Regions from separate parts of the Homo sapiens genome. Here region 1 is linked to region 2. The links come from fine-mapping of genetic effects on gene expression. Tissue or cell type: fibroblasts. Region 2 holds a variant in brackets; the other region holds the start of a gene. All regions are shown on one strand. Distances are from middle to middle.

Region 1 (2,617 bases), 300 kb before region 2:
AACAGAAACATTTGACTTTTGTTAGCTAATGTTCAGTGTGAAAGTTACATAGAGGATAAACGTGGAATCTACCTTGTCTTAAGAGCCCTTCTGAGATCCTCAAGAGCAATGCCGGAAAACTTGGCAGATCTCAGTCTAAAAGGAGGTGAAGAACTCAGCACCCCTAAAAACAACCATGAAATTATGCTATGAAAACGTGAATAACTCAAGGTAAGATTCATCACATCGTTTTTTACTCTTCATCTTCAAACTCAAAGCAAATCAATGAAAAGGACCAAAATGTGTTAAACATACTTGCCACCTTTCTCAGTACTTTCATGGTATCCACTGCACGCTTCAGATTATACTTAGAGAGATACGCGATACGGGGCGGGCAGGGAGGGGGAGTAATATACAACATACGGCACATTTAAGAACAGTTAACTACCAGAAAATAGCTTCTCTGAGTTTCACAAATACGGAACTCCATTCACCTCTCCATCCAGAGGAATCCATCCCTGGGGACAGCGTCTAGACACTGTTTCTAAAAGTGTCTTTTCTGTCCCTGATCTGCTGGAGTGGAATTTGGTTATCGGAGAGTAAGTGATTTGCTGTGGGTCTTGAAGGCACCTTTCCAATCTCTTCAAGTGGTAAAAGAAAAGGATTCTCCATGCTCCTCCACCCACCTCTATCAAAACATCCAGTCATTTTAAAAGAAACAGCTGGGAAAAGAAATCATCCTTCTGTTTTGGAGCGGGGAAGACAGTTAAGGCAGCGACGCCTCCCCGGGGAGCCGAGGCGAGGGCGCACGCACGGCTTCCTCAATTGCCAGCGGTGGGCGCAGGGCTCCGGCGCCCCTGTCAGCTCCCGCTCCCTCCGCCCCTAGAGACCTTCACGGTTTCGGTCAAGGCGCTCCTGCTGCCACCGAGGGCAGGAGGTGGTGCTGCTGGTGGGCACTCCGTCCCGGTTTGGGCTCCGGTGATGTCGGGGCCCTTCCCTGCCTGCCTACCTGGCCTTCCTGCCCCGCGATGGCGTCGTGGCGGCACCATGAGCGGACCGGTCAGGCCCCGCAGCCGCCCAGCGCCACGGCCGCGGCCTCGGACTCACAGAGCTGTCACCGCGCCTGACATCGCGCCGCACTGGAGGCCCAGCTCCTGAAGACGCGGTGCCCCTCAGGGAGAGGCTCCCGACACCACCCAACTCCACTCGGCCCAGGAGGGCGTGGAGCGGGTGAGGGGAAGGGACGGCACAGTCAGCTATGGCCGCGGAGGCCCGGAGATCTGCTCTGGCCCCGGCCCCGCCCCCGGCTTGCCCTCCGCGCGGCCCCGCCCCCAGTCCCCAGCCCGGAAGCGGTGGCGCGCGGGTGACGTCATAGGGGCGCGACGGCGGACTGCGCGCGGTCGCGTATGCAGCGAGGCTTGGCGGAGCTAGGGGAAGTAATGCGAGGCTCTGGTCGCCGAGCGAGGGCTCGCGGCGGCGAGGCGAAAGAAGAGAGAAGATAGGAAGAAGGGAAGTAGGGCGAGGTGGAGGAAGAAGAGGAAAGCGAGCGTGGGTGTCTGGGGCAGAGCAAAGGACGAGGGAGTGGCTAAACCTCCGCCCGCCTTAGAACGAAAGCTGGCCGTTCCGTTTCACAAACTGCGAACCTGAAACTTCGGATATCCCTTTCTCGATGACAGCCGAAACGCAAAGTGGCTTAGAGTACTTTTGATTCTTGAAACCTTTTGTATATAAACAAGATCTCAGCTCTAGGAGTTACAACCTACATCCTAGGCCAAGCTACTTCAACTTCTCTGGTCCTCGGTTTCCTTGTCTACGATAATGATAGTACCTGCCACATTGGTTTTTTGTGTGTATGCTAGGATTGCATGAGTTTACATATGTGAAGGACGTAGATCAATTCATGGCACATAATAAGAACCTCACAGACGTCAGCAATTTTTTGTTCGTTCGTTTGTTTTGAGACAGGGTCTTTCTCTGCCACCCAGGCTGCAGTGCAGTGGCACAATCACAGCTCACTGCAACCTCTGCTTCCCGGGCTCAAGCGATTCTCCAGCCTCAGCTTCCAGTGTAGCCGGGACTACAGGCGCAAGCCACCAATGCCCGGCTAATTTTTATATTTTTTAGTAGAGACAGGGTTTCGCCATGTTGGCCAGGCTGGTCTCGTACTCCTAGTCTTAAGTGATCCGCCCGCCTCGACCTCCCGAAGTGCTGGAATTACAGGCATGAGCCCTGCCAAATGTTGGCAGTTATTAAACTGTATAGATTTGTTCCTTAAATATTTTGACTATTCCATGAGAAAGGTTTGTCCAGCATCTTGATTTCTATCTACAAAACAAAAACAAGACTAAAGGGTTCAGTAATTTAACATCTTGGTCAGATGGCGTGAAGAAATTAAATTTTCTTACTCCTATAGTCGCGATGTAGTGTACCTCTTACCTTTTAAGTCTCGTTTCAGTGAAGTTGAATGCATATTCTAGCAACTAATAAAACAATACCAATGAACATTTTTTAATTGATCGAATCAGTTTCAAACTATCAGCATCAAACACCTCTAATAAGTCATTCAGAAACCTATTGTGCAGAGTAAAAAAAAAAACCAACCAGGCCGGTCGCGGTGGCTCATGCCTGTAATCCCAGC
Region 2 (2,762 bases):
TGGCAGAGATGGTTGGTGACGGATGGTTGGGGAAAAGCAGTGCTGGCACGTGGGCCATGTATTAGTCAAACCAGAGACAGAAACATTTCTGTTAAAAGAAAAAATACTGCAGATGTAAAAATCATTGGCAAATGTATATGGTTTAGGCTCAAAGGTCTGTATTATTTATTATGAAAACATTGAGGGCACACATTACCGGCCAAACGCTTCACTCACCAAAGAAGGATCTTAGAATAATCTCCGTGAAACTTCTGACTTTAAATTTAGCTGCGTCGTTGGAATAGGCCCACTAGGATGAGTTTTCCATGAAGTGCACTCTTAAGTGCACTTATGAATGAAATTACTTTATGGGCAAGCTTGTTTATGGGAAATTGGATATAATGTGCCAAATGCAACTATCTGAGCCCTTGTGCAATGAGAAGCTGAGCTGCTTTTTTGGACAATAACCAGCCAAAATGTTCGAGTACTTCTGATACTATTAGCGACATTATTTGAGCTTTCCACATGCTCCGGACAGTGTCCTAAGCGCCTTGTGAGTCTTAGGTTAATCTTCATAATCCCTATCTGGTGGGTGTTACTGTCATTCCCATTTTACGGATGAAGAAGATGAGTCAAAATGAAGTTAATTATCTTGGCCAAGGTTACACAGTTGGTAAACGGGAGAGTCAAAATTCAATCCTGGGTAATCTAACATTATAGACTCTATGGTGCAAAGTGTAGCAAGAGGGGGCTTTGGAAGATTAATTGTATGACAGTTGTTTGATGCCCACACAACACCTTCCTCACCAAGGATGTCTGACTTGGGGTGGGAATCACACAACAGGTGAGTTCAGGGTGGGGTTTTTATAAACCTGACTCTCTACTTCTAGGGTTGAGAGCTACAGAGTCTGATACTGCTTCACTTGTCTCTTTCCATGACAGAGACATTACAGAGATACTGATATTTGTGTCACGTCTAAAGTTCTGAGGTGAGATGGAACTTGTAAGTTTAGGAGAGATTCCTTATCCAGTTCCTCAAAATAAACTGCAGTGATGCTACCCAAAGAAGTGGAAAGATGCTGCTAGTTGGGAAACAGCACCTGTCTGCTACAGCATGCATCCAACTTGCCCAGCAGCTTAGCGTACCAGGAAAGCAGCTCATTAAATCGTCTCAGACATGGCCACGTTTAGCACCATTTAC[A/C]TGTGAGATTATTTCTGCCCTGGGACTATCACTCACTCCCTACTCAGATTTCAGCACCAAAATGTCAAACTGGCCTTTTCCCCTCCTATTTCAATTACCACTGTCCTAGATGGATCCCTCATTACTCCTTTCTCAGGTTATTGCAGTTGCTTTCTATCTGCTGTCCCTGTCTCCAGTCCCCTTACTCTTTGATTTTGTCCTAAGTACTCATTTAATAATTAGCCTCTATAGCACAGATTCTATCCTGTTACCCTCAGCTGAAATTTAAGAATTTCTTTACTTCTTTTGAATGGTTTTAATGATTCTCTAAAACCTTTCCTTTGTCTATTTATCTAATTTTCTTTCTGGTGACTTCTCTTGACACATTAGGCCTCTCAGCTAAATGTTGAATGTTCTCTACCCCCTTGCTATTGCTTATACTATTTTCTCTAACTGGAATATTTTCAATTTCATCTCATAACAATTCTACTCATCTTCTGAGGCTTACACCAGATAATGAGTCTCTGAGATGCCTTCAGTAATCAACTATATTTGCCCATATGGTGTTGCTGTGTTCTCAACTCCCTTTTATGTATTGTTTCTGTATTGTTTAGGATATTTTGGATTGCAGAAACAGAAACTAACTTTAGTTAATCTAAGGAAAAAGATAATTTGTGTACAGATATAGAGAGTGTCATAAGCCACAAGGGCAGGGATGCAGTTAGTCAATTGGAAGATAACCAGGAAGCAGAACATTTACAGAATCCCTCTCTGTCCATGTCTTTGTATTTACCCCATTCTCTCTCTTTCTCTGCAGAATGATTTTCTCTGCTTCTCTATTCAACATGCCAACGTTTCCAAATACAGCTTTTGATAGGATTTTCAGTCCAATCCTTGATTCTCAGGAGAGTAATACAACTGGCCTGTCTTGAGGAATATGTCAGGCATAGGTCCAGTGGGCTGTGGCTAGTGAGGGGCGTTATCATGCAAACGTAGCTGTTGAGGACCATCTGAAAAGTGGGGGGGGGGTGAGTTTCTGAAGAGATGGGGCATCAGACAATTGGGGCGGATCAATAATTTAAAAAAGTTTCTGCTACAGTCTCTACTAGGTTTTCTTAACCTCAAGAATACAAACGATATTCTCTTTCTTATTTGTTTAATCATCTCCAAACTCTCATCTTCCCAAGGTCTAAATATGGCTGGTCATATAGTGACACTCTGCAAAATAAGGCAATTTTGTTAAGGATGATACATGTAGGAGAGTAACAAGTTGTTAAATGTTATTCTTACCCTCATCTCAGATTTTCAGTGAAGATTCCAAAGGCTGAGAACAAACCATCTACTGCCAAATATCCACACTCATAAGACAGTGTGCTAGACAAGACCACCTGAGCAGAATGTGCAAGGAGGCTGTGAAGTTGCTTCTGTGCTCACTGGCCTACCACCCACTTTCAGCAATTGTAGGGGGAGAGACAGAAGAAGAGTGGAAAGAGGATTTCTTCAGAGAGACCTGAGAGGGTTCTGTGCATTTCTTCCACCCTCATTAATACTTTTCACTGATTTTAAGCCAATGAAGAAGGGATTCAAGGAAATTACTCAGAAA

Evidence for each region. PIP is the estimated chance that this variant, and not a neighbour inherited with it, causes the effect.
Region 1: it holds the start of SLC35F5, and the variant in region 2 is fine-mapped to the expression of SLC35F5 in fibroblasts (GTEx, PIP 0.97).

The regions. Positions count from the first base shown.
Region 1 is chr2:113,755,382-113,757,998 of GRCh38, forward strand. SLC35F5 (solute carrier family 35 member F5) reads right to left here and starts at 1,261. Exons shown (of 16, transcript NM_025181.5): 1 at 989-1,261; 2 at 73-163. The coding sequence starts at 1,028. RefSeq lists a silencer at 1,187-1,416 and enhancers at 1,627-1,806, 1,987-2,036.
Region 2 is chr2:114,050,931-114,053,692 of GRCh38, forward strand. No RefSeq gene overlaps it. Among named protein-coding and RNA genes, the nearest start is that of LINC02992, 72 kb to the left of the region's middle. The variant A/C (reference allele first, on the strand shown) is at 1,181.